Regions from separate parts of the Homo sapiens genome. Here regions 1, 3 and 4 are each linked to region 2. The links come from fine-mapping of genetic effects on gene expression. A gene starts in region 2. Each other region holds a variant in brackets. All regions are shown on one strand. Distances are from middle to middle.

What was found. PIP is the estimated chance that this variant, and not a neighbour inherited with it, causes the effect. A credible set is the group of variants that fine-mapping cannot tell apart.
Region 1: its variant is the best candidate, but not a certain one, in a credible set for the expression of LINC01176 in ileum (GTEx, PIP 0.58).
Region 3: its variant is the best candidate, but not a certain one, in a credible set for the expression of LINC01176 in prefrontal cortex (GTEx, PIP 0.89).
Region 4: its variant is the best candidate, but not a certain one, in a credible set for the expression of LINC01176 in whole blood (TOPMed, PIP 0.64).

Annotation. Positions count from the first base shown.
Region 1 is chr7:30,482,729-30,490,900 of GRCh38, forward strand. No RefSeq gene overlaps it. Among named protein-coding and RNA genes, the nearest start is that of NOD1, 8.0 kb to the left of the region's middle. The variant A/G (reference allele first, on the strand shown) is at 4,386.
Region 2 is chr7:30,386,718-30,394,889 of GRCh38, forward strand. It overlaps LINC01176 (long intergenic non-protein coding RNA 1176), which reads left to right and starts at 4,168. Exons shown (of 3, transcript NR_108081.1): 1 at 4,168-4,318. RefSeq lists an enhancer at 4,350-4,968.
Region 3 is chr7:30,755,930-30,764,101 of GRCh38, forward strand. INMT (indolethylamine N-methyltransferase) reads left to right here. Exons shown (of 3, transcript NM_006774.5): 3 at 1-1,673. The region is part of intron 2 of INMT-MINDY4 (INMT-MINDY4 readthrough (NMD candidate)); the gene reads left to right. Among named protein-coding and RNA genes, the nearest start is that of INMT-MINDY4, 7.9 kb to the left of the region's middle. The variant C/T (reference allele first, on the strand shown) is at 3,271.
Region 4 is chr7:30,359,770-30,367,941 of GRCh38, forward strand. It overlaps ZNRF2 (zinc and ring finger 2), which reads left to right. Exons shown (of 5, transcript NM_147128.4): 4 at 2,608-2,687; 5 at 6,266-7,920. The coding sequence ends at 2,665. Among named protein-coding and RNA genes, the nearest start is that of LINC01176, 27 kb to the right of the region's middle. The variant CA/C (reference allele first, on the strand shown) is at 3,193.

The DNA.
Region 1 (8,172 bases), 96 kb after region 2:
CAGCCACTTCTACAAAACAACAACTCCTTTCCTTCCTAGGCATGGGTAGGTACTTCCGCCTTTGGATACCTAGTTTTACCATCCTGACTAAACCATTATATAAACTCACAAAAGCAAACCTAGCTGACCCCATTAATCCTAAATCCTTTCCCCACTCCTCTTTCCGTTCCTTAAAAAACAGCCCTAAAAGCTGCTCCCACACTAGCTCTCCGTAACTCATCCCAACCCTTTTTTCATTACACACAGCCGAAGTGCAGGGCTGTGCAGTCAGAATTCTTACACAAGAGCTGGGATTGTGCCCTGTAGCCTTTCTGTCCAAATAACTTAACCCTACTGTTTTAGCTAGCCCCCATTATTCCTGATACCACACCTGACCCCCATGACTGTATCTCTCTAAATCCACCTGGCATTCACTCCATTTCCCCATATTTCTTTCTTTCCTGTTCCTCACCTTGATCGCACTTGGTTTATTGTTGGCAGTTCCACCAGGCCTAATTGCCATTCACCAGCAAAGGCAGGCTATGCTATAGTAGTATCTTCCACATCTATCCTTGAGGCTACCACTCTGCCCCGCTCCCCTACCTCTCAGCAAGCCAAACTCATTGCCTTAACTTGAGCCCTCACTCTTGCAAAAGGACTACACGTCAATATTTATACTGTCTCTAAATATGCCTCCCATATCCTGCACCACCATGCTGTTATATAGGCAGAAAAAGGTTCCCTCACTACGCAAAGGTCCTCCATCATTAATGCCTCTTTAATAAAAACTCTTCTCAAGACCACTTTACTTCCAAAGGAAGCTGGAGTCATTCACTGCAAGGGCCATCAAAAGGCATCAGATCCCATCACTCAGGGCAATGCTTATGCTGATAAGGTAGCTAAAGAAGCAGCTAGAGTTCCAACTTCTGTCCCTCATGGCCAGTTTTTATCCTTCTCTTCGGTCACTCCCACCTACTGTCCCACTGAAACTTCCACTTATCAATCTCTTCCCACATAAGGCAAATGGTTCTAGGACCAAGGAAAATATCTCTTTCCAGCCTCACAGGCCCATTCTATTCTGTCATCATTTCATAACCTCTTCCATGTAGGTTACAAGCCGCTAGCCCATCTCTTAAAACCTCTCATTTCCTTTCCATTGTAAAAATCTATCCTCAGAAAATCACTTCTCAGTGTTCCATCTGCTATTCTGTTTCTCCTCAGGGATTTCTCAGGCCCCCTCCCTTCCCTACACATCAAGCTCGAGAATTTACCCCTGCCCAGGACTGGTAAATTGACTTTACTCACATGCCCCGAGTCAGAAAACTAAAATACCTCTTGGTCTGGGTATACGCTTTCACTAGATAGGTAGAGGCCTTTCCCACAGGGTCTGAGAAGGCCACCGCGGTCATTTCTTCCCTTCTGTCAGACATAATTGCTCGGTTTGGCCTTCCCACCTCTATACAGTCCAATAACGGACCAGCCTTTATTAGTCAAATCACCCAAGCAGTTTCTCAGGCTCTTGATATTCAGTAAAACCTTCAATACCCCTTACCATTCTCAATCTTCAGGAATGGTAAAATGGACTAATGGTCTTTTAAAAACACACCTCACCAAGCTCAGCCTCCAACTTAAAAAGAACTGGACAATACTTTTACCACTTGCCCTTCTCAGAATTCGGGCCTGTCCTTGGGTTGCTACAGGGTACAGCCCATTTGAGCTCCTGTATGGACACTCCTTTTTATTAGGCCCCAGTCTCATTCCAGATACCAGCCCAACTTGAACTGCACCCCAAAAACTTGGATAGAACCTAAAAACTTGCCAACCAAGCAAGTAATTATGCTGAACCCCTTTGGTTACTCTCCAATTAGATGTCCTGGGTCCTCCCAATTCTTAGTCCTTTAATACCTGTTTTTCTCCTTCTCTTATTCGGACCTGTGTCTTCCGTTTAGTTTTTCAATTCATACAAAACTGCGTCCAGGCCATCACCAATCGTTCTATATGACAAATGTTCCTTCTAACAGCCTTACCACAAAATCTTCCTTCAGCTTAATATTTCCCACTCTAGGTTCCCACACTGCCCCTAATCCCACTCAAAGCAGCCTTGAGAAACATCGCCCATTATCTCTCCATACCACCCCCCAAAATATTCACTGCCCCAACACTTCAACACTATTTTGTTTTATTTTTCTTATTAATATAAAAAGACAGGAATGCAGGCCTCTGAGCCCAAGCCTGCACGTATACATCCAGATGGCCTGAAGCAACTGAAGAATCACAAAAGAAAGGAAAATGTCTGGTTCCTGCCTAACTGATGACATTACCTTGTGAAATTCCTTCTCCTGGCTCAGAAACTCCCCCACCAAGCACCTTGTGACCCCTGCCCCTGCCCACCAGAGAACAACCCCCTTTGACTGTAATTTTCCACTACCCACCCAAATCCTATAAAACTGTCCCACCCCTAACTCCCTTTGCTGACTCTCTTTTTGGACTCAGCCCACCTCCACCCAGGTGATTAAAAAACTTAGTTGCTCATGCAAAGCCTGTTTGGTGGTCTCTTCACACGGACGTGCGTGACAGTAAGAACCAGAATTATGGCTAGGATATGTGAACCCCCAATATCTGAGGCGGTCTCAGTTAATTTAGAAAGTTTATTTTGCCAAGGTTGAGGGTGCTTACCTGTGACGCAGCCTCGGGAGGTCTTGATGACATGTGCCCAAGGTGGTCAGAGCACAGTTTGGTTTTATATATTTTAGGGACACGTGAGACATCAATCGATATATGTAAGATGAACATTGGTTCGGTCTGGAAAGGCAGGACAACTCAAGCAAGGATGTCTTCCAGGTCACAGGTAGGTGAGAGACAAACGTTGCATCCTTTTGAGTTTCTGATTAGCCTTTCCAAAGGAGCCAATCAGATATGCATTTATCTCAGTGAGCAGAGGGATGACTTTGAATAGAATGGGAGGCAGGTTTGCCCTAACTTGACTTTTCCCTTTAGCTTAGTGATTTTGGGGCCCCAAGATTTATTTTCCTTCACAGATACTAATTCCTCCAGTCTATCCTTATATGAGCCTATGGTAGAAAAATTAGACACTTTTTTTTTCTTTTCCTCTAGGATTCTGAACTTTATCTTCCATGTCGTAACCTCTCATTCTATTTTCCTTATCCTGTTTCTCTGGCTGCATTCTGAGTCACTTCAGTTCTGTCTTTTGACTCAGCAATTATTTTGTAGATGTTTGAATCTGCTTTTTAACCTGTCTATGGCAGGCAGAGTAATCTCCCCCCAGTGATGTCCACATCCTACCCCTGGAACCTGTGAATATGGCAAAGGGACACTAAAGTTGCAGGTGGAATTAAGATTGCTAATCAACTGATCTTGATGGAGGGATTATCCTGGGTTATTGAGGTGGGCCCAATGTAATCACAAGGGAACTAAAAAGTGGAAGAAGGAGGCAGAAGAGGGAGAACCAGAGAGATGGCAGCCTGAGAAGGACTTGCCTGAGAAGGACTCGGCCGACATTGCTGGCTTTGAAGATGGAGAAATGAGACTGAGCCAAGGAATGCAGGTGGCCTCTGGTGCTGCAAAAGACAAGGAAATGGATTCTCCCACAGACCCTCCAGAAGGAATGCAGACCTGCCAACACTATGATTTTAGTCCAGTGAGACCCATTTTGGAATGCTGGCCTCCAGAACCCTAAGACAATAAATTTGTATTGTTTAAGACACTAAATTTATGGTAACTTGTTATAGCAGCAGTAGGAAAGTAATACACCGTCTATTTAAGTTCTTAATTTTAACAATAATATCTTTATTTTCTAGGATTTTTAGATATTTTTTGGTCTTTCTAGCTTTCTTGGTCATTTTTAATAGTCTCCTTTTCTTTGTTGATTTTATATTTTAAAACTATTTTATAGTTGTTTTTGCTTTTAAAATAATTTATTATTGAGACATAATGTTTGTATTTTTATGGGGTACATGTGGTATTTTGTTACATGCATAGATTGTGTGTAATAATCAAGTCAGGGTATTTGGAGTGTCCACCACTTTCTTTCTTTTTTTTCTGTTTTTTTGAGATGGAGTATTTATCCTTTCTTTCTTTCTTTCCTTTCTTTCTTTTCTTTCTTTCTTTCTTTCTTTCTTTCTTTCTTTCTTTCTTTCTTTCTTTCTTTCTTTCCTTCCTTCCTTCCTTCCTTCCTTCCTTCCTTCCTTCCTTCTTTCTTTCTTTCTTTCTTTCTTTCTTTCTTTCTTTCTTTCTTTCTTTCTTGTCTCTCTTTCTTTCTCTCTCTTTCTTTCTTTCTTTTCTTTTCTTTTCTTTTTTTGAGACGGAGTTTCACTCTTGTCACCCAGGCTGGACTGCAGTGAGTGGCATGATCTTGGCTCACTGCAACTTCCGCATCACAGGTTCAA[A/G]CGATTCTTCTGCCTCAGCCTCCTGAAGTAGCTGGGATTACAGGCACCCACCACCACGCTCAGCTAATTCTTTGTATTTTTAGTTGAGACGGGGTTTCACCATGTTGGCCAGGCTGGTCTTGAACTTCTGACCTCAGGTGATCCACCCACCTCGGCCTCCCAAAGTGCTGGGATTACAGCCTTGAGCCACCACACTCAGCCGTGAGTATTCATTATTTGTGTGTATTGGGAACATTTCAAGTCCTCTCTTCTAGCTCTTATGAAACATAAAATACATTGTCAATAACTATAGTCACTCCACTCTGATATAGAACATTAGAACTTACTCCTTCTCTCTAACTCTATTTTTGTACACATTAACCTATGGCTCTTCATCACCCCACCACCTGCCCTTCCCCGATTCCCAGCCTGTGGTAACTATCATGCTATTCTACCCTCTACCTCCATGAGACTAACTTATTTTTAGCTCCCACATGTAAGTGAGAACATGCAGTATCTGTCTTTCTGTACCTGGCTTATTTCACTTAACATAATGACCTCCAGTTCCATCCATGTTGCTGCAAATGACAGGATCTCATTCTTTTTATGGACAAATAGTATTCTGTCATGTATATATTTGGTTTGTTTTTAAACCTTTTGAGATCACTCTAAATTCACATACAGTTGCAAGAAAGAGAGATCCATGTATCCTAACCCAATTTTCCTCAGTGGTAACATCTTGCAAAGCTATAATACAATATTACGACCAGAAGGTAGACATTAATGCCATCAAGATACAGATCATTTCCATCACCACAAACCTCCTTCATGTTGCTCTTTATACTACCTCCTCCTCTACTTAACACTTGGCAACCACTGTCTGTTATCCATTTCTACAGTTTTGTCATTTCAAGAATCATACATAAATGGAATCATACATTATGTAACATTTTGGAATAGTTGTTTTCAGTCAGCATAATTCTTTGAAGATTCATTCAGGCTGTTGCATGTATCAATAGTTCTTTCCTTTTTATTGTAAGTAGTATTGCTAGGTGTGAATTACCATAGTTTGTTGAAAGGCATCTGGGTTATCTCCAGATTTGGACTATTATGAATAAAGCCACTATAGGCATTCATATACAAGTTTATGTGTGAAAATAAGTTTTCATTTCCCTGGGAAATGTCCAGAAGTGCAACTGCTGAGTTGAGAAACTTATAAAGTTTTCCCCAGAATGACTGTACTATTTTACATTCCACCAGCAATGTATGAGTGGTCCAACTTCATGGCATACTCACCTGCATTTGGTGCTGTCATAATTTTTTGTTTTAGCTATTCTGATATATGTATAGAGCAACTGATACATCATTGTGGTTTTAATCTGCTAATAATGATTTTGAACATCTTTTCATGCACTTATTTGCTGTGTCTTCTCTTGGGTGAAATGTATCTTCGTAGCTTTTCTTCATTTTTTTTTTTTTTTGTTTTTTATTTTTTGAGACTGGGTCTCACTCTGTCACCCAGGCTGGAGTGCAGTGGCACGATCATGGCTTACTGCAGCCTTCACCTCCTAGGCTGAAGTGATCCTCCTGCCTTGGCCTCCTAAAATGCTGGGACTACAGGCATGAACTACCATGCCCAGCCTTTTTGCTTCCTTTTCTGATTGGATTGTTTGCTTTTTTACTGTTGAGTTTTGAGAGTTCTATATTTGGTGTGTAAATGTTTTGTCCCTCTCCTAGCTTGTCTTTTCATTCTCTTAGGGTCTTTCAGAGAGCAAAGGTTTTGTTTGTTTGTTTGTTTTTTTAATGAAGTCTAATTTATCCATTTTTCCCTTTATGAATCATGTTTTTGGTGTCAAATCTAAGAACCGTTTGCCAAGCCCTAGATTGCAAAGATTTTTTACTATGTTTATTTATTTATTTATTTATGTTTACTAGGAGTTTTATAGTTTTATGTCAGACATTTAAGCGCAAGATGGACTTTGAGGTAATTTTTGTATAAGGTGTGAGACTTAGGTCAAGGTTATTTTTGTCTTTTTCTTTTGACTATGGATGTCTAATTGCTGCTCTGACACCATTTGTTGAAAAGACTGTCCCTCCTCCATTAAATTCCCTTTGCACCTTTCCAAAAAACCAGGTGAGTATATTCGTGTTGATCTATTTCTAGATTCTCTGTTCTGTTCCATCGATCTATGTGTTTATCTCTATGCTAATAACATACAATCTTGAAATTGGGTAGAGTGATCCCTCTCAATTTATTCTTCTTTTTAAAAATTGTTTGAGTTCCCTTTGCTTTCCATATAAATTTTAGAAAAATAATTATGCTGGTATTTTGAGAGGAATTTTGTTAAACCTGCATATCAATCTGGGGGAGAATTGACATCTCTACTATGTTGAGTCTTCCAATCCATGAACATGGCATGCCTTTCCATTTATTTAGATCTTCTGTGAGTTCTTTCATTAGTGTTTTATAGTTTTTAGCATACAAGTCCTGCACATGTTTTGTGAGAGTTACACTTATGTATTTCTTTTTTTTTAAATAAAGCAATTGTATATATTGCTGGTAGGAATGTAAAATGGTTCAGCCAATGTGGGAAACATTTTGGGAGTTCCTCAAACAGTTAAACATAGAATTACCATATAGCCCAGTAATTCTACTCCTTGGTATGACTCTATAATTGAAAAAAGGTACTCACACAAACATATGTACATAAATGTTTAGAGCAGCACTATTCACAATGATCAAGGGTGAAAATAATCTAAATGTCCATCGATATATGGATAAGCAATTTATGGTATACCCATAAAGCAGAATATTATTCAACCATAAAAAGGAATGAAATACTGATACATGATACAATGTGGATGGAGCTTGAAGATATTATGCTAAGTGAGAGACACCATACACAAGGTCACATATTGTATGGTTCCATTTATATTAAATACCCAGGATACCTAAATCCATAGAGACAAAAAATAGATTAGAAGTTTCCAGGGTCTGGGGAAAGGAGAAATGGGCAGTAACTACTTAATGGGTATGTGGTTTCCTTTAGGGGTGATGAAAATATTTTTGGAGTAGGTAGAGGTGGTGGTTGCACAACATTGTGAATTTATTAAATGCTACTGTATTGTTTACTTTAAAATTAATTTTGCTATGTTAATTTCATCTTATAAATAAATATGCAATTAAAATGCAATTGTAAATGTTATTGCATTTTAAAATTTGGTGTCCATGTATTTATTTCTAGTATATAGGAATGCAATTGATTTTTTATGTTTATATTGTATCCCATAATGCTGCTGAACTTACTTACTTGTTCTAGGGGATATGTTTTGTAGATTCTTTGGGATTTTCTGCATAGACAATAATGTCATCTGAAAATAGGGATGGTTTCATTTATTCCTTTCTGATTTGTGTGCTTTTTATTTCCCTTTCTTACCTTATTGCACTGGCTAGAACTTCCAGCACTATGTTGAATAAGATGGGTAAGAGCAGGCTGGGTGCAGTGCCTCAAACCTGTAATCCCACTCCTTTGGGAGGCTGAGGCAGGAGGACTGCCTGAGGCCAGAAGATTGAGACCAATGTAGGCAACATAGTGAGACCCATCTCTACAAACATTTTTTCAAAAGTTAGCCAGGTGTGGTGGTGTGCACCTGTAGTCCCAGCTACTAAGGAGGCTGATGCAAGAGGATTGCTGAAGTCCAGGATTTTGAGGCTACAGTGACCTATGATTGTGCCACGGCACTCCAGACTGGGTGACAGAGTGTCTCGAAAAGAAAAAAAAAAAAGACTGGTGAGAGCAAACATCCT
Region 2 (8,172 bases):
CATTTAATCCATCCATTATAACAGCAGCTTTTTAAAACTGCAGAACTTTTTATTCTGCCCAATATGTTTGAGAGATTTGTGTCTTAGCAAGTGGATTTTTGCTTTAAAGTCCCATTGAACTAGTGCTGGAATAAGAACTAATAGTGAGATACAGTTTTTTGTATTATAATATTTATGCTCTTCCTCCACATCTTCATTTGGCTGGCTCTTTCTTTGTTCAGACCTCTGCATAAATCTCACACCTCAGAAAGGCCGCCTGTGGCCACCCCATCTTTATAAAATAGCCTCTCTCTGATCATTCTGTCTAAAGAAGAAGACCACCCCCATTGTTCTGCATCCTGTTCCCTGTTAAACTTCTTAGCACTTAGCACTGCCTACCTCATCATGTTTGTTTCCTTGTTTATCTTATCTCCCTTCTCCCACTAGAATGAGGACTCGATGAAAGCGAGATTTTTTTCTGTCTTGTTCATTGCAGTATCCCAGAACCCAGAAAAGATTCTGACACAAAATAGTCATCTATAAATATTTAAGTCAATGACTGAATATTTAGAAAATTATTGTGGTATTTTTTCAGAGTGTTAACTTCTTTTGAAGTGTTGTGTGAAAGACATCCATTAGTATCTCTGAAATTATGAATTAAAAAGAAGGCAATAGGCTGGGCGCAGTGGCTCATGCCTGTAATCTCAGTACTTTGGGAGGTAGGAGGATCACTTGAGCCCAGGAGTGCAAAAGCAGCCTGAGCAACATAGTGAGACCCCATCCCTATAAAAAATTTAAAAATTAGCCAGGCATTGGTGGGGCATGCCTGTAGTCCCAGCTATTCTGGAGGCTGAGATGGGAGGATCACTTGAACCCAGGAGGTTGAGGCTGCAGTGAGTCATGATTGCGCCACTGCACTCCAGCCTGGGCAGCAGAGGAAGATCTTGTCTCGAAAAAAAGGCAGTAGGCGAATATAATTCAATATAAAATAAAACTTTGTGGAGTCATCTAATGCCAGGGACATAGGTGGACCGCACCTAATGATGATGAAAATAAGACTATTAATGAAGCAGTTCACATCAGCCTTTTGATACTATGCTTTTATCAAGTTTGTGTAAATGAGATTATGCAAATAATAGTGATGGCTCTCACTTTGGAGCACTTATCTGAGGTCAGGAGTTCGAGACCAGCCTGGCCAGCATGGCAAAACCCCGTCTCTACTAAAAATACAAAAATTAGCTGGGTGTGGTGGTGCACACCTGTAATCCCAGCTACTCAGGAGGCTGGGGCAGCAGAATCGCTTGAACCTGGGAGGCAGAGTTTGCAGTGAGCGGAGATGATGCCACTGTACTGCAACCTGGGACAGAGTGAGACTCCATCTGCAAAAAAAAAAAAAAAAAAAAAAAAAAAAAAAAAAAAAAAAGAAGCAAAATCTGAATTTCACTCATCTTGAGTATGAACTGGCCCTAGTAACTTGTTTCTAACTAACAGAATGCAACAGAAGTGATGCTGTATGACTTCCAGGGCTTAGTTAGAATAGGTAATACAGCTTCTAACTGGCTTTCTCTCAGGAAGGTTCTCCGTGGAACCAAGGTTCTATGCTGTGTGAGAAAGCCCTGGCCACGTCAACCACCAAACATGTGAGTGAGGAAGCCTTCTAGATGATTCCACCCTAACCACCATCTGGCTAGAGCTGGATGAGAGACCTGAGGGAGAGCTGCCTAGCTGAGTCCAGTCAATCCCCAGAATTGTGAGAGAAGATGATATATGATTGTTGTTTCATCTCACTAAGTTTGGGATGGTTTGTTACACAGCGGTTGATAACTAGACCAGAGACCTTTCCTAGAAACGCTGGAGAACACGTGCCAGGATGGTCCTGGACATCTCCATTGTTTGCTGCTTGCTTCTCTACTGTGCCCATTGCCTGTGCTTTCACCAAACCCCCTATTAACCAGACATTGTCAGCTACCAGAAGTTTCCTGTCTTAGGATCTTGACACTTTTGAGACTCTTTGAAGTTACGAGACATGATGGACTTACTATCAAAAACTTGGCAAGCACAGTTACATCAGCAAGTGTTACTTTGTTCAAGTAAGAGGGGAAATAGTGCAGCATGGCAGTTAACCCTGTGCTCTCTAAGCTTTTACTGAATTTCAGTGGGTCATTCTAGAGACTTGGTAGCCACATGCGTGTCAGTTTGTTGATATTCAGTATTGATTATTCTCATAGGAGCTGTATATAATTGTTTTGAGCTTAAAACAAAGAAAATGATTAGTTTATGGTTCTAATCTTTTGGATTTTTTTTTTTTTTTTTAGACGGTGTTTCACTTTTGTCGCCCAGGCTGGAATGCAGTGGCGCGATCTCGGCTTACTGCAACCTCCACCTCCCGGGTTCAAGCGATTCTCCATCCTCAGCCTCCTGAGTAGCTGGGATTACAGGCGCCCGCCACCACACCAGGCTAATTTTTGTATTTTTAGAAGAGACAGGGTTTCACCACATTGGCCAGGCTGGTTTTGAACTCCTGACCTCAGGTGATCCACCCCCCTCGGCCTCCCAAAGTGCTGGGATTACAGGCGTGAGCCACCACGCCTGGCCTTGGATGTTTTAAAGTAAAATTTTCCCCACTGCAAAATAATAGATATGTGTTGTAGGAACTTTTGGAAACACAAGGCACAAAGGAAAAAATACCTTCATATTTCTCCTTTTCCCATCTCCCCAGAGACTTTTTTCTCCTTATTTGTTGGCATATGTCTTTCCATACTCTTCAATGCATATATATTCACAGGATAACATTATATGTGGTATTTTAGAACCACATTTCTAACATTCCATTTATCATGTTTTGTATTTGCATAGTATTCCATTTCGTAGTTGTACCATAATATCTTTAGACAATGCTTGTGGTCAAATAATTTCCCCCAATATTTTACTGTTACAAAAAATGTTTCGATGAACATTTTGGTCTAAAGTTGATGGATCAAGGAATATAGGGGTCATTATAAGTTAACAAATACAGCGTCAGATCATGGTACTACTCTGCTGAAAATCCCCCTTGGCTCCCATCTTACTCAGAGCCAAAGCTAAGGTCTTTACCATGACCTAAAATACCCTCAGCCATCCGGAGTGTGCATGTATGCATACACACAGACATGTACATGCCACTCACTCCTGCCTCTCTAGCTCATCTTCTCCTGCTCACCCCTGACTTGTTCCCCTGAAGCTATTCCTGGAATACACCAGGCAAGCAAGCCCCTGTGTCAGGGCCTTGGCACTTCTTCCTTCTGCCTATAACAATTCCTCCAAGTATCCACAGGCTTCCTCTTTCACTTCCTTTGTTGCGTTGGCTCAGATATCGCCTTATCTGAGTGCCCTTCCTTAACTATACAATACAAAATAAGTTCATGAATCTGCCCTCACCCCTACATTCCCTGTTTCCTTTACCTTGTTCTATTTTTCTATAACATTTACCTGACAAATCTTATGTTTGTTTATTGTCACTCTTCTTCCAGAATGTAAGCACTGTGAAGTCAAGGACTTTGTTAGTTTTGATCACTATTGTATCCATGGGTTCTAAAGCACTGCCTGGCACATAGTTGGCACTCAGTAAGCTAAGAAATAATAAGACTAACATATTGGGATTGTGGCAAGGAGGTAAGTATACTCCACTTTTTCAAGGGGATTATAAAGGGCATCATTTTTAGGTGGGAGATATTGGACATAGGAGTTTGTGAACCAAGAGACAGAGAAAGATGTTACTTGGAGATATGGAGGTTATAAGTATCAGAAGATTAGAAGTTCCGGGGATGTTTTAAAGTAAAATTTTTCCCATTGCAAAATAATAGATATCTGTTGTAGGAACGTTTAGAAATACAACTAAAGCACTTTTTGCTTTACTTGGAGTGGGTGGGACTGGAATTGGGAGGAGGGGCCATGGAGAGGCTGCTTTTTTTCATTGTGCATCTTTCTGTAAGACGTGAATTTATACCATGTACACCAATTACTTAAATAATAAGAGCATGTTTGGACTTCCAGTTTCTGGTGATGGCTGGTTATGAAAACTTGAAGAAACAAAATAATGGCTTTTTTTAAGTGAAGAACTAAAAAAACATTGAACTTCCAGGCCAGTTTTTGGATAAAAGTCTATAACCAGGGAGGGAAATGGAATACTGGAACAAAAAGCTGCCTGTGCTGAGACAGCAGTTGCTGATACCACAAACACTTGTCTGCTGTTTCTGTGGCCTGGCTGAGCCAAGAAAACATGTTAAAGCACAGAGCCCACGCAAGACAGTGTGCTTGCAGGAGACCCTACCAACAGGAATCGGATAACAAGGAGCTAAAGGTAAGGAGGAGTCAGAGCTGAACCCAGTGCCCTCTTCCCAGCAGTTGTAATGAACTGTGGCTACCTTGGTGCTCTTGGAGCAGGGAGGAAAAGAAATAGAAAATACAATTTCCCTGGAAGGCCTGTGCATATCTGCTTCCCTGAAGATTAGCTTCTCAAATATACATAGCTGGTTGGGCCAAGGATTCTCAAAATCTGAATTCGGCAGAAGCACAGCAAGATCTCTCTGGAAGAGGGCTCATCTCAAGCGTCAGGAGACTCCCGTTAAATACTTATTCAAGAATAATGTGTGGCAAGCGATAAAGATTACAAGTTACCCAAGCAACTTGAATATGAATGAGAATAGAAAATCACAGAAGCCCAGCTTCTTCCACTTAGCATAATCATTTGAGTCATCCATGTTGTCATGTGTATTCAGCAGCTTGGTCCTTTTAATTGCTGAGTGGCAATCCATAGTTTACTCATCCATTTACTAGTGGAAGATTTGTGTTGGTTCCAGTTTTTAGTGACAGTGGTTAAGCTGCTGTTAACATTCACCTAGAAGTTTTTTTGTTTTGTTTTGTTTTGTTTTTGAGACAGAGTCTCGCTCTGTCGCCAGGCTGGAGTGCAGTGGTCCGATCTTGGCTCACTGCAACCTCCGCCTCCCAGGTTCAAGTGATTCTCCTGCCTCAGCCTCCCTAGTAGCTGGGATTACAGGCACATGCCACCACGCCCAGCTAATTTTTGCATTTTTAGTAGAGACTGGGTTTCACCATGTTGGCCAGGATGGTCTTGATCTCTTGACCTCATGATCCGCCTGCCTCTGTCCCGCAAAGTGCTGGGATTACAGGCGTCAGCCACTGCGCCCGGCCTCACCTAGAAGTTTTTATGTGAATCAAAGATTTTGTTTCTCTTGAGTACATTCCTAGGAGTGGGATAGCTAGTTATATGATAAATATGTATATATACTTAGTAGGAAATTGCCAAACAGGTTTGCAAACTGGTGGTGCCACTTTGCATTCCCACCAAAAATGTATGAAAATTCCAGGTGATTGGCATCCTCACCAGAATTTGATATTGTCTGCAGTTTTGATGTTTTTGCTATTTTTTTGTTTTGACTTGGGTATACGGTGCATTTCATTGTGTTTTTCATTTTCATTCTCCCAATGCAAATGATGTTGTGTATTTTTTCATATTCTTCTTTGCTACAGGTATATTTTCTTTAGTGAAGTGTCTATTCAACCCTTTGGCACATTTTTGAAAAACTGGATTGTATGTTTTCTTACTGAATCTTGAGAATTCTTTGTATATTCTTGATACAAATCCTTTATCAAAAATATGGTTTTGGCCAGGTGTGGTGGCTCACGCTTGTAATCCCAGCACTTTGGGAGGCCAAGGTGGGCAAATTGCTTGAGCCCAGGAGTTCGAGACAAGCCTGGGCAGCATGGTGAAACCCCATCTCTACAAAAAAAAAAAAAAGTACAAAAAATACAAAAAATTAGCCAGGCATGGTGGTGGCACACGCCTTTTGTCCCAGCTACCTGGGCGGTTGTGGCTGTAGTGAGCCATGATTGTGCTGCTGCACTTCAGCCTGGGAGACAGAGTGACACCCTGTCTTTAAAAAAAAAAAAATTATATATATATATATATATATGTCAAATATATATATATATATGTCAAATATATATATATGTCAAATATATATATGTCAAATATATATGTCAAATATATACATATATATGTCATATATACATATATATGTATATATATACATATATATGTCATATATATAACATATATATGTCATATATATACATATATATGTCATATATATATACATATATATGTCATATACACATATATATGTCATATATATACATATATATGTCACATATATATACATATATATGACATATATACATATATGGCATATATACATATATATGGCATATATATACATATATATGGCATATATATACATATATGTCATATATACATATATATGTCATATATATACACATATATGTCATATATATACATATATATGTCATATATATACATATATATGTCATATATACATATATATGTCATATATACATATATATGTCATATATATACACATATATATATGTCATATATATATACGACATATATATATGTCATATATATATACATATATATATATGTCATATATATATACATATATATATGACTTGCAAGTATTTTCTATTTTCTCCCAGTCTGGCTTGTTCTTTTGTTTTCTTAGCAATGTCTTTTGAAGAGCAGACATTTAAAATTTTGATGGAAGTTCAATTTATTGGGTCTTTTTCTTTTTTGAATTGTGCTTTTGGTGTCAAATCTAAGAAATGTTTGGTAAACCCAAAGTTACAAAGATCTGTCTTCTAGAAAAGAGGTGAGCAAACTTTTTCTGTAAAGGGCCAAATAGAAAATATTTTAGGCTTTACAGGTCATAGTCACTGTTGTAGCATGTAAGCAGCCATAAAATACATAAATGAATAGGTGTTCAGTAAAACTGTTTTTACAAAAACAGATAAAGATTTGGCCCATGAGCCTTAGTTTGCTAACTCTTGTTGTAGAAGATTTAGGTATTGCAGTTAAGGTATGATCCATTTCTAGTTACTTTTTTTATGTGGTGCAAGCAATGGGTGGAGAGTTTTGTTTTTGTTTTTGTGTATGTATATACACTTATTCTAGCATTATTTGTTAAAAAGACTGTTCTTTATCCACTGTATTATCTTTACACCTTGTTTAAAATCAGTTATTCATGGGTGTGGATTTATTTCTGAATTTTCTTTTCTGCATCTGTGTCTGCCCCTTCTTTATGACTATACTGTCTTAATTACTGTGGCTTTGTAGTAAGTTTTGAAATTGGGTAGTGTGAGTCCTCCAGCTTTATTTTTTTTTTCCTCAAATGTTTTAGTTTTTATAGCTCCTTTGCCCCTCCATATAAATTTTGGAATCAGCCTATTAATTACTACCAGACTTCCTACTGGGATTTTGATTGGGATTGCATTGAACCTATAGATCAATTTTGACATCTTAACAATATTGAGTCCTGTTACCAGTGAATGTAATATATCTCACCATTTATTTCAGTTTTTTGTTTGTTTGTTTTTGTTTTTTTTGAGACAGAGTCTCTCTCTGTCACCCAGGCTGGAGTGCAGTGGTGCAATCTTGGCTCACTGCAACCTCCACTTCCTGGGTTCAAGTGATTCTCCTGCCTCAGCCTCCTGAGTAGCTGGGATTACAGGCACGTGCTACCACGCCCGGATAATTTTTGTATTTTTAGTCGAGATGGGGTTTCACCATGTTGGTTGGGCTGGTCTCAAACTCCTGACCTCGTGATCTGCCAGCCTCAGCTTCCCAAAGTGCTGGGATTACAGTCGTGAGCCACCACACCCAGCCTATTTCAGTATTTTAAAGTGTCTTTCATCAGCGTTTTATGGTTTTCAATATACAAATCTTTTACATAATTTGATAGGTTTATACTTGAGTATTCATGATTTTTAGTGCTATTGTAAATTGTAAATAATACTGTTTTAAAGTTTTTAATATTCAGTTCATTGCTGTTATATGAAACTGACTGATTTTTCTATATTTCCTTTTGTATCCTGTGATCTTCCTAAACTCACTTACTTGTTCTAGTAGCTTTTTTTTTTTTTTTTGTAGATTCTCTGGAATTTTCTGCATAGACAATTATGTTGTCCACAGATCGAAACCATTTATTCCTTTCTAATCTGTACGCCTTTTCTTTTCTTTTTTTCTCTTTTTATTGTTTGCTCCTCCTTCCCTTCATGTGTCACTTTCCACCTCTGTCCCTTCTCTCCCCTTCCCTCTCTCACTCCTCCCTTATT
Region 3 (8,172 bases), 370 kb after region 2:
TACTGTCTAACAGTCTCTGATTTCAACACTAACATTCCATCTTCTGAAATTCTGAGATTCTAACATCCTTGTTTTAGAATTCTAAGTTTCCAACATTCCTCATTCTAGGATCCTAGGAGTGGAATTTTCCATTTTCTAATATACTAAGCCTTACAGCTATCTTAGATGCGATCTGACTCCTGTGTGACTGTGGAGCACCCAGGGACGTGGTTTTAGAGTCTACCTAATATGTTAAGGACAAGGAAACCTCTGAGTCTACCTAATATGTTAAGGACAAGGAAACCTCTGGACAGTGGTATATTGGGGAATTTTTTTTTTTTTTTTGAGACGGAGTCTGGCTCTGTCACCCAGGCTAGAGTGCAATGGCACGATCTCGGCTCACTGCAAGCTCTGCGTCCTGGGTTGACGCCATTCTCCTGCCTCAGCCTCCCGAGTAGCTGGGACTACAGGAGCTCGCCACCACACCCAGCTAATTTTTTTTTTTTTTTTTTTATTTGAGACGGAGTTTCGCTCTGTCGCCCAGGCTGGAGTGCAGTGGCGCGATCTCGACTCACTGCAAGCTCCGCCTCCCGGGTTCACGCCATTCTCCTGCCTCAGCCTCCCGTGTAGCTGGGACTACAGGCACGCGCCACCATGCCCGGCTAATTTTTGTATTTTTAGTAGAGATGGGGTTTCACCGTGTTAGCCAGGATGGTCTCGATCTCCTGACCTGGTGATCCACCCACCTTGGCCTCCCAAAGTGCTGGGATTACAGGCGTGAGCCACCGCACCCAGCCAGGGGGAATGTTCTATAACCAGCTCTGTAAAGGAAAAGCACTGATGTGTGGTAGTCACCAATTTCTGTGGTGTAAATACTCCCACCATGGTTGATTTCAAGCCACCAGTGGTTTAATAACCAGCTCATAAATCTCCTAAATATTTTACAGTTGACTCTCATGAGCTGATTGGAGTCAGCTGGAACATACCACTGCCTCTAGACTAAGGTCAGCAGATTTAGCAAATACAGACTGCCCCAGTTCATTGAATTTTAGATAAATGAAATAAATCTATAAGGTTAAGTATGTCCCCAGAACTGCATGGAACATGCTTAATCTAAACAATGATTTGTTGTTCACCTGAAATTCAAATTTAGCTGGGTGTCCTGTATTTCATCTGGCAACCCTACTTCAGACCCAGGTGTAAGGTACATGGATGTGCTTTGGTCAAGGAATAGGCCAAGGCAGAGATCCATGCCTGCATGACTCAGTGGGTTTGGTGCACAGGCACACACCTCCACTTGTTATATAACCTGTTTGTGTAAGTTCATACTTGGTCTGAGCCACTGTTGTCTGTAAAAGGTAATTGTCCTGCTAATGCTGTACAGGGGCTCTTGGGGTTCGGCTCAGCTCAACATGGCTTGACATGGTGGGCACACTGGCGCCCAGTAAGAGAGAGAGAGAGCCAAAGCTGTCCGTTTTGCAGATGGACAGGAAGGAGCCAGGACACAGCTCAGCTTGCTCACGCCCAGAGAGAGAAAAAGTTAAGCTGCTGACCCTGAAGGCAAGGGAGAGCAGGCTGCACAGCTGTGTGTGGAAGCCACGGGCTCAAGCAGCCAAGGCAGGGCGGACAGTGTGAGAGAGCTAGTGTAAGCTGTTGATGAGAGCTGTTGCTGAATAAAACCATATTCACCTGCCTATGGGCCCTGAGTGTTCTTTCTGTCCATCTACCCACTCCCCTCAGACTTTAGCACGGGCTGGACCTGGACCCCAGGACCTGACACCAAGTGAGAAGAGGAGCAGCCCAGGGATCAAGGGTATTCCTCGTACATAAGGTGCCTTTGTGCAAATTAGGAAGAGGTGCTCCTGCAGATGGACACATTGCAGAAAGGAGTGTTCAGGGCTGATTAATTGAGAAAAGCTGTTCCATCTCCCTGTGGAAGCGCTATGAGAACAAGGTGCCTCTTCTGGGCAGACCAATTAGAGAAAGATGTCCCTTCCTTAAGGCTGATTGGGTCACACTACTGAGCACCTGTCAGCCTCCCTTTTTCCCTCAGCCCCAATCTGTGCCTTTGTGTGGGTACACCCTGGGCACAGCAACCTTGATAAGAGCCAGGAGACCTGGAATCTACTCTCAGCCCTGCCACTAATTGTTTCACTTCTCTGGGCCTCGTATTCCTATCCATGAGATTTAATCTAATAATCTACAGGAACATCCTAAGAACAGCAGGAAGTCATTGATGTGGAAGTGCTTTTTTTTTTGAGGCAGAGTCTCACTCCGTCGCCCAGGCTGGAGTGCAGTGGCGTTATCTCGGCTCACTGCAAGCTCCGCCTCCCGGGTTCAGGCCATTCTCCTGCCTCAACCTCCCCAGTAGCTGGGACTACAGGTGCCCGTCACCACGCCCGGCTAATTTTTTGTATTTTTAGTAGAGACGGGGTTTCACCGTGTTAGCCAGGATGGTGAAAGTGCTTTTTTTAAGGTGTAGTTTCACTCTTGTTGCCCAAGCTGGCGTGCAATGGTGCGATCTCAGCTCACTGCAAGCTCCGCCTCCTGGGTTCAAGTGATTCTCCTGCCTCAGCCTCCTGAGTAGCTGGGATTACAGGCATGCACCACCATGCCCAGCAAATTTTTGTGCTTTAAAAAGTAAAAGGTTTTGCACAAATTGACCCATTGATGTTATTCCCCCAGAGGGTCAGGGCTGAGATGGTCTTTCAAAATTACCCAGTCTAATCTCCGGGTTTTTTGTTTGTTTGTTTTGAGACAGAGTCACACTCTATCGCCCAGGCTGGAGTGCAGTGGTGCAATCTCAGCTCACTGCAACCTCAGCTTCCCACGTTCAAGCGATTATCTTGCTGCAGCCTCCCAAGTCGCTGGGACTACAGGCGTGCACCACCACACTCAGCTAATTTTTTTATTTTCAGTATAGACAGGGTTTCACCATGTTGGCCACACTGGTCTTGAACCTCTGACCTCAAGTGATCCTCCCTCTTCGGCCTCCCAAGGTGCTGGGATTACAGGCGTGAGCCACCATGCCCAGCCAAATCTCCATTTTTTTTGTAGTCAGGGACGATAGGTCCCAAGAGGGAAAGCGACTTGTCCAGAGACACACAGCAAGCTGGTGACAGAGCTGGAGTAAGAACTCAGGCGTTCTGACTCCTCGTTCACCCTGTGTACCCTCATTCCACCAGGTCTCCCCACCCGGCTTGGAAGGGCAGGGGGCCCTGCTTCCCTTTGGCTCTCTTTTAGCATAGACTCGTTTCTGTGATAACATCCCTGCCAGCAGTCCTTCCCTTC[C/T]GGGCTCATGCTTTACCCCAGAGAGCATGTGGACCCCAGCTCTTCTCTCAGTACAGCCCTCTCCGGCCTTGTCTGGAAAGGCATTGAATATGGGTAGTTTTATTTTTATTTTTATTTTTATTTTTTTGAGACCTAGTTTCGCTCTTGTTGCCCAGACTGAAATACAATGGCATGTTCTTGGCTCATTACAACCTCCGCCTCCTGGGTACAAGTGATTCTCCTGCCTCAGCCTCCTGAGCAGCTGGAATTACAGGCGTCTACCACCATGCCTGGCTAATTTTTGTATTTTTAGTAGAGAAAGGGTTTCACCATGTTGGCCAGGCTGGTCTCGAACTCCTGACGTCAGGTGATTTGCCCGCCTTGGCCTCCCAAAGTGCTGGGATTACAGGTGTGAACCACTGTGCCTTGCCGAATATGGGTAGTTTTAGACATGCTCATGGCAGAATGATCAACAGGCGGAAGAAGTGGGAGGTCCAGCCGATGTGGATCCCTGAGAGCCCATGTCCACAAACAGGGGAAGAATAGTGGCTAAAATAGGTCTTGTAGGGAATTTTAAAGACAAGTGAATTGTCTGTTGAGGCAGCCAAAAAGGGGCTGGCTTCTGCCAGGTGGCAGCCAGGCAATGTCCAGGAGAGGAGATTGCCAAGGAAAGGAGGCTACAAATGCCCCCTCCTTGTGATGTCAGGACCTCCCTTAGCGAGCGATCTGGCCAAGACACAGGGAAAAGACACAGGATCCAGACCCGGGGCTCTGCTCCTTGGACGGCTCAGTGCAGAGAGTCAGCTGGCTGCCTGGAAGGAGAGAGTGGGCAAGGGTGTGAGGGAATCTTTGGGGGCTGTGGAAGCTGTTCTACCTTATGAAATGGGGCTGGGATGGACTGAGGGACTATGCTGTGCTCTGTCATTTGTCCATAAGTACTCTCTACATGCTCTAATAAAACATTTTGTTTTACTCTATCCAATGGGCAGAACCTGTGATATGCTGTCAAGACTATGGGGGAAGGACTCTTTAGGGAAGAAAACCCTATTGTGACTAAAGGAAGGAACCTTCTGTTTGGGGCAGAGAGGCAGACTTGTAAGTCATGACCATTGGTCCACAGAACTGTTTCATCATGCAACGGTGAAACTCTGTACCCGTTAGACAGTAACTCCTGGTCTCCCTTCCCCTCGCCCCCAGCAACCGCCATTCTACTGTGTCTTTATGAATGTGACTACCCTAAGTACCTCATATAAGTGGAATCATACAGTATTTGTCCATTTGTGACTGGCTTATTTCACTTAGCATAATGTCTTCAGGTTCATCCGTGCTGCACTGTGTCAGAATTTCCTTCCTTTTCAAGGTTGAATAATATACCATCGTATGGATATGCCACATTTTGTTTATCCATTCATCCACTGATGGACACTTGGTGGTGTTTGTGTTTGGGCTATTGTGAATAATGCCGTTATGAGGCCAGCCACAGGTAAAACTCACTGAATTCTCACAACAGCTCATGTGGACAGTATTATTTTGAAATTCCATTTTACAGGTGAGGAAACTGAGGCACAGACCTTCTCAAAGTAGCTATTAAGTAGAGAGCTGGGCTTATGAACCCAAGCACTGTCATTCCAGAGCCTGAGCTTAACCTGGACCCCACACTGTCATCTCACAGGGGTGCAGAAGAACATCTAACTAGGCTTGGGGGAAGTCCAGGAAGCCATGGAGGTGATCTGTGAGCTGAGAGTGAAGAGTGAATAGTTCACTGATGGCTGATGGAGAAAAGGGCTAGCCATTCCCAGCAGAGGGAACACCTGTGTGTTGCGGCTAATTACACAAAAACCCATCTCCACTCCTAAGTCATGGCCCCTGTGGTCCTGAAGTAACCTGAATTTGAAAACAGAAGACACAGGAGATTTATTATCTGTGTGGTACCCCCTACTTCCTACCTATCTACCTCCACCACATCATAGGAATCAAGTAGCAAGGCCAAGCCAGACTTGGAGAGATGCCAGCAGAAGCATTTCATAGGCTCAAAAGGACGTACATTTCCCAATCTCTTCCTGACCTATTTCTAACTCCCGTATCCTTATGGGGGTGGAGCTGGAGGTTGAAGGGTCTGTGGGGGAGGTGGGGAAGAGGAGGATGAAACCCCAACAGCTCTTTTGCCCTCTGCCTGTAAGTTCAGCTTATCTTATCCTAATGCATTCTTGACTCCTTGCTGAGAAATGCTGCTTATCTTGCGACTCCATTCTAGTCTCAAAAACCCTGCATTTATTCTTTTTCCTAGAACTCTGAAAAAACCCAAGCTTGGGGAACATGGTTGTTTACCAGAGTCATTTTAACTGCTTATCTAGAAAGGAAAGGAACAAAAGTTGGCCATTCTGGTCATCTCAGCTTAGGCAGCACAGAGGTCATGGAGAAATTTTCGTAGGCAACTGCCTCTACTTACGGGAAAAGCTATAAAAACATACAGTTGTGTACAAGCACAGAAGTGAGACAGGCCCAGGCTCGTGTGGAGATCAAGGACTGCAGGACTTGAGTTCTGAGATCCTGCACATGTGGGCATGTTATATGTACAATAAGCGTGTGGGGTGTCATGAACTGAGATCCTAATAAAAAGAACCAGAGGTATAGAAACATGACATCTTGAAACAAAAGAACGCCAGTGTTCCAGAGATTGCTAGTTGTTCTCCCGTGCCCACTATGCCCATTAACTTCTTCAGAGTAATAGATTTTTTGGCTGGGCTCCATTTAGCTGGGCAAGGCTGCCTTAAACAAGACTATATTTCCTAGTCCCCTTTGTAGCTTTGTGCGGTCAAGTGAGTGAGTTCTGACCGAAGGGATTTGAGCAGAAGTGTCGTACCAGCTTCTGGAAGCCTTCCTTAAGATGTCGTAAACCTAGACTCTGCTATTTACTCTTCATCCTTTACCCTGTCCTGTGATCTGGAATGTGGCTGCTGGCATCTTGGTTTAGGAGGTCAAGGCCACACATGGCGGAGAAACAAGACAGAGGGAAACTGGGAACCTAATAATGTGAAGCACTCATGAGCCCTGGGTTTTTATGTGAGAGACAAATAGACTTTCATCTTGTTTAAGTCACTGATATTATTGTTACCCTTATTATTATTATGGCAGAAATGCCAGAGAAGTGGTGTTGTGTCTCTTTCAGTGCATAAGGAGGTATGTAACATTGATAGTCCTCTGGCTGGGGATGATAACTTTGATCACTTGGTTAATGGGTTGGCCAACTTCTCCATCATAAAGTGAACATTTTCCCCTTTGTAATTAAGCAGTATCTTATGGAGAGATTCTTTGAGATGACATAAATATCCTGTATCCACTAGTTTTAGCATCCATTGATGATTCTTGTCTGAATGAATTATTATCATTATCCTGGTTGCCAAATGATGATTGGCAAATTCCATCATCCTTTCTACATTTATGAGTTCACATTCAAATGTAAGGAGAGGCTTTCCCTTCTCCTTTATATATCTATATATATATATATATATCTATATCTATCTATCTATCTATATATCTATCTATATATATATCTATATATCTATCTATATATATATCTATATATATCTATCTATATATATATCTATATATCTATCTATCTATCTATATATCTATATATATATCTATCTATATATATATATAAACATGGACTCATGGGTTCTTATTTTATTCAGTTGGTTATAATCTGTGACTATCATAACTTACTCTGATATACAGATTTAGCCAGTAGGACCCCTTTTAAGCTGGGTGGTGGTTTGTTCTTCTGACATGATTCCCTTATTTTTTTGAGTACTTCCTTACTAAGTTACTCTTATTTTGAGTTTTTCTGTCACTCTGAATGGAAATGGGTACTAACCATTATAATCAGGCATAGGAGTAAAAGAAATGGATGAGGGCTCTGGGGCTGCCTCCTTCAGCTCTGGACCTAGAGGCCCAGCACTTGGCATGCCGGGGACAGGAAGGGGTTCACAAAGCAGCCACCCTTCAGCTAGAGTTGAGCTGGGAAGGCACTAGTTGCTGCTTGCTCCAAACAGCCTTGTTTTTGTGAAGGACTCAAGCCAGGAAACCTGGGATAGTCACAGAGAAGAAACCCTGTGACTATCCTCAAGGCCTGCCTTAAAGCTGAGGATATATCATGGTCTCTGCATAGAGACTGAAGTAGAAGGGAAAAATCCCTATAACCATCAGCCCAAGTGCATGGAGTTCAAATATTCAGGTAACCAACCTAGAGGAAGGTGCTCCAATTGAACCATCAGAGCAAGGGAGCCAGGTTTGTAAAGAGCTGTAGACTAAGAAGTCAGAGAACCAGGGGAGAGGGAGAGCAAGAGGCAGAAGATTAAAAATTGTGAGCAGCAGGAGGCATCTCCAGGGCACATACAGAAAATCATATTTGTACAGCCTGAGATAAATGGAGAAGACTGTTCATGGTAGTAATGGCCTATGGTATCTGGCCAGATAGGCTCCATTTAGCTGTCCTGAGGCCTGAGGAGATTGTGACTCCAGCATCCCTATAATCAATTTGTGATACATCAGTACTGACAATCCCTGTGGGAATATCTGGTCTAGCAAACCCTGGAGAAAGAGACCACTGCCCCACAACTGATTGAGCTTTCACTCATTCTTAGAGATTCATAGTATTTAGGTTGAAAAAAAAAGCTGCTTTAACAAAAGACTCCCTCATCCCCACTTCCAAAAATAGAAAAAAAATTAAAAAAAATAAAAACACTAAGCTCAAACCAGATGAAAGTGTATTTCTCTCACCTGTAACCATCTGAAGTCCGTGTCACCATGTGAATGCTCCATGCAGTCATTCAGGGAACCAGGTTCCTTCTATCTTATTTCTGCCATCCCCCAGGATAGCACACTTAAACTCGAGTGAGCATCAGAAGTACCTGGAAGTCT
Region 4 (8,172 bases), 27 kb before region 2:
TTTACAGTCGTGTTCTATTTATTAGGAATGAGCATGTCTTTGTTCTGGTGATAAAACTGTGTTATTTGAGTAGTCTGCCTTTAACCTGACTTTTCCCACAAGCCCTGTTACTTTAGCTTAAAGTTTTGTGGAAAGCAGTGTTTATCAAAAGCCTGTATATTATAACTGAAATACCTGGATAATAGTTTCCTAGAAAACTATCAGTTAATTCAGAAAAAAGGACCCTCAATTGGCCAATAAATAATACAAATAGGCATATTTGGTAGATAACCCTGTAATAGCTGTGTGGAGTACATATTCTACAACTCAGTAATTCCACCTCTACATATATGCCCTAGAGAAACTCTTGATCTTTTGCTCTAAGACAGTGCTACTATTCAAAGTACAAGTCCAGAAGGCAATAAAGAGTTTCTGCCAGTTAAATCAACACTATGCTTCTTTCATTGAGAAAGCCTTGCTGTGATTTTTTAAAGTCATTTGAAACAGTGTGATTAGTGAGGAAATTAACTTGTATTTGGGCGCAAACTCCTTATCTCAAAGAATGTTCATAGCATCATTGAAAATGTCCATCAGTGAAAGAATGTATATGTAAATTGTTTATATTTATATAATGGAATGTTGTACACAATGAAAATGTAAAAACAGGCCAGGCGCAGTGGCTGACACCTATAATCCCAACACTTTGGGAGGCTGAGGTGGGTGGATCACCTGAGTTCAAGACCAGCCTGACCAACATGGTGAAACCTTGTCTCTACTGGAAAAAAAAAAAAATTAGCTGGGTTTGTGGCAGGTGGCGCCTGTAATCCCAGCTACCCAGGAGGCTGAGGCAGGAGAATTGCTTGAACCCGGGAGGCGGCAGAGTTTGCAGTGAATTGAGATGTTGCCACTGCACTTCAGGCTGGGCGACAGAGCAAGACTCCGTCTCAAAAAACAAAAAGCGAAAATGTAAAAGCAAGAGACTTACTAACAATTGCAAATCTCAAATTGAGCAAAAAAAGCAAGTTACAAAAAGCATAATGCTGTTTTATGGTAGCATTTATATAAAATTTTAAACATGGAAGCAGTACTATATGTTGTTTTAGAATATACACATATATAGTTATATAGAGTAAGAAGATGCCTAGAAATGAAAAATACCAAATTGAGAATAGTGCTTTCCTGCTAGGTCTGAGAGAAGGGAATATAATCATGTAAATAACAAATGAATATAGCCTAGAATGGAACATATGTAGATTGACAGACGTTTATGTGAAGAGGACCTGGAGTTTTAAATGATTACTTTCTCATGATGAGCCAGAGTTACCTGGTTGTAAAATAAGGAGTACTCATGTTAGCTCGCAAATAGATACTATTCAGATATATTATGAATTAACACATCTGGAGTATTTTATTTGATGCTCAGAATTTTGTTTTAAGAGGTTTTCTGGTAGACACAGTGGAACTTCCAGGGCCAAGTGGTAGAGAGCAGGCTGAAAACAATGTCTTAAGCCAAACTGGCTATATATTTCGAGAACAAAAGTCTTAATGGCAGCTGAAATTCAGATATTTGAAAGAACCTGTTGATGTGGTACTCTACCTTTTTTCTTTTTAGTTTCATCTTATCACTTTTACCTACCAAACCAACCTATCTGGACATGAGGATGATAAATGTTAATTTTGCCCTTCAGTATATTAACCAAGTCTTGTAGCTTTGCGGCATATGCAAATTTGAAATATGTCACCAATGAAAATGTTGAACAGGTTGAATCCTGCTTGGATAACTTGCTAGCTGTTAGGCAAGTAATAGCTAGTTAGTAGACCTTGATTTTTTCACCTATCATGGTACTGTGAAATAGAACTTTCTACCATAATGGAAATGTTCTATATCTATGCTGTCCCCTAGAGTAGTCGTGAGCCATGTTGCTGTTGAGTGCTTGAAATGTGGCTAGTGTGACTGAGGAACTGGATTTTTTTATTTTATTTCAATAAATCTTAAATAACCAGTGTGTGGCTCTTGTCTACTCTGTTGGACAGTGCAGATCCACAATGACGATGATCATATGCACCCTAATATTTAGCTTCTAATAAAATAAGATCATAAAATACTTCCTAAATACAAATGATTAATGTATATTTATTTGTGTATGTATATGTATTACATGGTGGGATAGGATTTAAATATTCAATAATCACATATAAATATAGCTTTAAAAATGAAATATTGGCAAGGATTAAAATTTAAAAGCCGTTTTTTAATACATTTATAGGTGACATGAACAGGTTGATAATGTGCATAAATGAATAACTGTTTTGAAAAGAAAAATTATGCAAATTTGTTATTCAGTTTTGAATATTGGTAAAGTGGTAGTTCAGATTATCTTTTGGAAGTAGTTCTGTTTGAACTTTAAAGTACTTTATAGCATAATTTTGCAAAGGTTTTTTTCTTAATCGCTTAGAATCAAAATATAATAAACATTCTTATCTGTTGCTTATGTATGCCAAATATAATTTAAAATGCTCATTTTTTTCTGTAAAAAATATATTAAAGTCAAGTATTTTTACTGTGGCTCTCATTATATAAATAATTAGTATAAGTATCTCAATTTTTCTGGTTTTGTTCCTTTCTAGCTGCATAGATGAATGGTTTGAAGTAAATAGATCTTGCCCTGAGCACCCTTCAGATTAAGCGTCAGCTTCCTGTTTTATAGGTAATTTTTTTTGTAATTACTTTTTAAAGCGTTAGCCCAAATTATACATTCTAAACTATAATTTTTATTTATTCATTTACTCATTGAGGTGCATGAGTGTGTATGTGTATGTTTCAGACACTTAGGCTACTGCATAGAAAACTTACATTAAAAATATTGTATAATTCTAATTGTTGGCTGGGTATGCTGGCTCGCGCCTGTAATCCCAGCACTTTGGGAGGCCTCAGGCAGGTGGATCACTTGAGGCCAAAAGTTCAAGACCAGCCTGGCCAACATGGTGAAACTCTGTCTCTACTAAAAATACAAAAATTAGCCAGGCTTGGTGGTGCACACCTGTAATCCGAGCTACTCGGGAGGCTGAGGTACAAGAATCACTTGAGGCTGGGCATGGTGGCTCACACCTGTAATCCCAGCACTTTGGGAAGCCGAGGCGGGCGGGTCACGAGGTCAGGAGATTGAGACCATCCCTGGCTAACACGGTGAAACCCCGTCTCTACTGAAAATA[CA/C]AAAAAAAATTAGCCAGGCCTGGTGGCGGGTGCCTGTAGTCCCAGCTGCTTGGGAGGCTGAGGCAGGAGAATGGTGTGAACCCAGGAGGTGGAGTTGGCGGTGAGCTGAGATCGTGCCACTGCACTCTAGCCTGGGCGACAGAGCGAGTCTCCTTCTCAAAAAAAACAAAAAACAAAAGAGAATCACTTGAACCCAGGAAGTGGAGGTTGCAGTGAGCCGAGATCATGCCACTGCACTCCAGCCTGGGTGACAGAGCAAGACTGTCTCAAAAACAACCAAACCAAAAAATAATAATTCTAATCATTTAGTATTATCATGTGCCAGGTGTTGTTGTAAGCATTTTACATCTATTAGTAACTTGTCTAATTGTTACAATAACCGTTTTGAGCTCAGTACCATTACTGTTCCTATTACGCAGATGAAGAAATTAAGTATAGAGAGGTTAAGAAACTTGACTTTTCAAGTTCAGATAACTAGTTTGTTGGTGGGGATGAAATTTGAACCCAGGTATTCTGGTTCCAAAGACTGTTCTTAGCAATTTTGCTCTTTTTAGGTAGGAACATTTTCTTCAAACAGTCGCATCATAAATTTATTCATTCAATTTAATCATTCACTTTTATATCTTTAGCATGTAATACAGTGCCTGTCTATATAGTAGGCAAAAAATAAAGTTGCATTTTACGACTGAAAAAAAAACTAGTTTTGTTCTACTGATTTAAGTTTTTCATGGTTCTGCATTATCTGAAAATGTTTAGTGAATTGAATGCTGACCTCAATTGGGTATTTTCATAGGGCTTTTTTTTTTCACATTTCACAAGTGCATTAAATTGACATCATTTAGCTTTGAAAAAATAAAGGTTAACTTAATTGCTATCTTCAAATATATGAAAAGCTTTTATGAAAAGACTTGGAGAGATGATATAAAGCATTGGATTGTTATATCAAGGCAGAGCATTTTAGCTAATCCTAGAATTGTTTCAGGAGTGAGAGTCTCTTTGTTCAGGGACTCAAGACAGTAACAGCCGGCTTTTCTAGGAGGCTGAGACTGATGGCAAGGAACTAGACCAGATGACGTCCAGAGGTCTAGTCCTGTGTGGTACCATTTCCTTTTATTTCAATAACTTCTCTTAAATTTGAGAATAAAAGTGTTGAGGTAATAAACACCCTCAAGGAATTCTGTTGCTGTATTGGTGGAAGATGATTTAAGAGTAGCAGATTAGAATATTGACAGAGAAGATTTGAGATAATAGCAGCAATAGCACCTGAAATGAGAACTGCAGTTGAGTGTCATAAGACTACGCATGTGCATGTGAAATGTGGAAGCCTTGGTAGACTGCAGAGTACTAAAAGACTGCCAATTTTAACCTTTCCTGTGAACTTACTTAGATCATGCCTTGACACATTTAAAATATGAATTGAGGCTGAACACTAATTGCTTGAGATAAGGAGTTTGAGGCTGCAGTGAGCTATGAACACACCAGTGCACTCCTGCCTGGGTGACTTAGCAAGTCCCTGTCTAAATAAATAAATAAATAAAATGTGAATGGAAGTAAGAATGCTAGGTAAGAGAAGTATAGTGGTGGAGTGGTATTTTGAATATATGTGCACATATGTTTTTATTTCACCATAGAAAAGGTTTGGAATGCCTTCATTGTCACCTTATGTTTGAGACAAAACGAAACTGTGGCTAAAATTATAGAAGCATTTTAAGGGAAGTACTGAAACTGATGCTAACAAAATGAAATTTTTGTCTTAGTATTTTACATGCCAAAGTAATACATCTAAATCCTTCATCTATAGATAAAATTTGTCTTTTTAGTCTTTCTTAGTGCATTTTGGGCTGCTATAACAAAATACCTTAGATGAGTAATTTATACATGACAGAAATTTAGTGCTCACAGTTCTGGAAGCTGGGAAGTCTAAGATCAAGGTTCCAGCCAGTAGATCTGGTGTCTGATGAGGGCTCATTGCTCATTTATGGCACCTTCTGTGTGTCCTCACGTGGTGGGATAACAGACTCCCTCAAGCTTCTATAAGGATACTAACTGCATTCATGTGGTCAGAGCCCTCATCACCTAATCATGTCCCAAAGGCCCCACCTCTTAATACTATAGCACTGCAGATTAGGTTTTAACATAGCAATTTTGGGAGTACACAAACATTTAGACCATAGAGCTGATAAGCTTTTTTTTTTTTTTTTTTTTTTTTTGGTGAGGTGGAATTATATTGTATAAATTTTTTTTCTTTCATCAGCTAAATTTTTCCTTTAGTGTCACAGTGAGCTTATGGGATATGTGGAGCATACATCTCATCTCATAGCTGAAATGCATATGTCTGTTGGTCTTCAACAACATTTCCATTTTCTTATGTTACATATGAGTGTTATATTTGCTTATTTGTTTGTTTTCGAATATAGAACCTGAATTTGAAACTAGCCTACTACATGGGCAGGGTGAACTCTGTTAATCAGGTGTCTACAGAAATCTGAACCAATGGAGTCTGCTTCTGTGGGTCTTGAAGAGTCATTTTTAAGAGTTTATAGACATGGAATATCTTGACTTGTACATTTTTGCTTCTGTCCTGACTGTTCTTATTTATCAAGTGATAAATTCTTGTATACCTTTTAATAGTCCTAGATTAAAGGTATATGGGTTTGAGGAGGATTCAGTGTTGTTAAAACATTTTGTAAGGCACTGTGTAGCCATAAAGCTCAACGTTTCTGATATCCTTCAGCATAAGAATTTAATAATCAACCCAAAATAGAGAGACATGAATATTTGTGGTCTTGATTAGTTAGAAAATTGCTGTACTTATTTTGGGGTTTTTAGTTATTTGGGAGAAATATTTTAAATCTCCGTGTGTGTGCATTCTTTACTTGCGTGTAGTCCTTATTGTGAAAGGGGGATGACTTTGTTATGTATTTTTTGTGACTAAACTTTAATTGATCCTTCTGTTTCTTAATCTGTTCTTCTCCAGATCACTGATTTTATGAGTTTTCAGAATAGTAAGTAAGGGTATGAAGACTTACAGTAACTAAAGCAATGTTCATGGGGAAATCTATTTTTACACAGGTTTTCTTGTCTTGACAAGATGCTTGAAAAACCAAGAGGATATGAAAATCTGTCTCTGGAGAAACAAAGACGCAGGCATACTCAGCCAGAAATCTGAGTTTTGTGAGACTTGGTAATACAGAGATGGACAATCGTACTGGGGTAAAAAAACCCTGCTGAAGAGAGGACAGTGACCACAGAACTCAGTGTACCAAACATGCATACAAAGGACACACAGGGATTTTGAAAATGCTGCACATCCCTTAATAGTCATCTACATAGGTAATACTGATAAACATTTTGTATTCAGACGCCAAAGTTAACTGATTTAAAAGTTGATTTACTTTTTATTAAGTTCTCCAGAGCTGCACAACTAGTTATGTTTTGATTTGTTTTGTTTTTTAATTTGGGGTCTCTTTGTTTTCCCCAACATAATGTTCATAATGTTTCTGCATTCATCTGTTCTTAAATTGAAAAACATATAATTTACTTCTTATAAATTGAAGTCTTAAATGTGAAACCAAGAAATGTAATCAAGCAGTAAAAACATCTGAATGTAGACCATGATCTCAAGTTCTTCCATTTTCTCCCCCACGAGTGGAAAATAGACTTCTACATAGGAAAGCTAAAATATGTTAATATTTTTAAATTAAAGGTTTAATATCAGAATGCAGTCCAAAGAGCAAATCATATTACATAATTACATTTTAATTAAATATAGAATATTCTACTGAATTGCAATTTATTAAATATTCTTATCCTCTTAAATAAAACTGCTCAACAGTTAATCAGCAGTGAATCATCTTGCAGCTATGCAATTTAAAAAAAATACAGATTACCAATTTCAAGTGCTGCCAGCTAAAATAACTGTTTTAACGGGTATCTTTTGTTTGTTCTTTTCACTTAATTATTTTATTGTGCTTTGCATCTCCAGGCAGTTCTCTCACATTTGGGTAAAATGTTTAGCAGGCTGTAAACTTAAGAAAAGGGTAAAATAAAATTTTCTGGAGAGGAACTTGGAATTTGAGGGAGATTTTATATACCTTTAAAAACTGTAATTTAATTGGGATGCCAGGTTTATAGCAATTTGCAACTTTAATTTTCCAGATAATCTGGAGGTTAGCATTTGATAAATGATTTTTTAAAGTAGATATGAAGATTTTGTTAATTTATAATTTATTCATGTGTTATTACTGTAATTGAAAATGTTATAGACACTTTTAAATTCAGTTTGTGTAGAAAGAAATGTGTTAAACAAAATTATGTTAATAAATATTCCCACATAATACATCTGAATGGTTAAAAATACTGGAAGAGTTGTCAGGGCTACAATAGTGAATGTCCTTTTTTTTAATATCAAAAATATCGATAAGTAGGTTTTGTGTTTTCAACGTAGGGAAAATGTTATCAGTGAATAGGTGGTGTACTTTACTTGGTATAATTTAAAGTTGCACAGTAAGTACTGTTTCCTTATTTTAATCTTTCTTTACTCATAATGTATTTAAGAATTTGCTGTTTTATTTAACGCTGCTACTCTTAATCTTCTCTAAATTTTTCCCCCTACTTTCTTGCTTCTGTTTCACATTTTTTAAAAGGGCAAGTACAGGAGCAACTGCTGCTACCCAGAAAAATGTGTGTATTATAAATAATTAAAGAGTTTTTAATTGCTTTCTGTATGATTCCAGCTCAGATAACATTTTCCCTGAAGTTATGCTGTGAAATGCCTTTTGTTATGCTGCAATTGCTAAAGGAATCCAAAACCTCCATTGTGACAGCTGAAGGCACAGTTTAATAGGTGCTTTTTTACTAGTTATGAAAAATATTCGTCCCTTAAGGAAACGATTCTTTTTCTGTTTTTTTCTGTTACCATGAAGTCTTAATTTGATTTCATTTTATTTCACATTTTTGATTTTGTAAGCTTTCATACC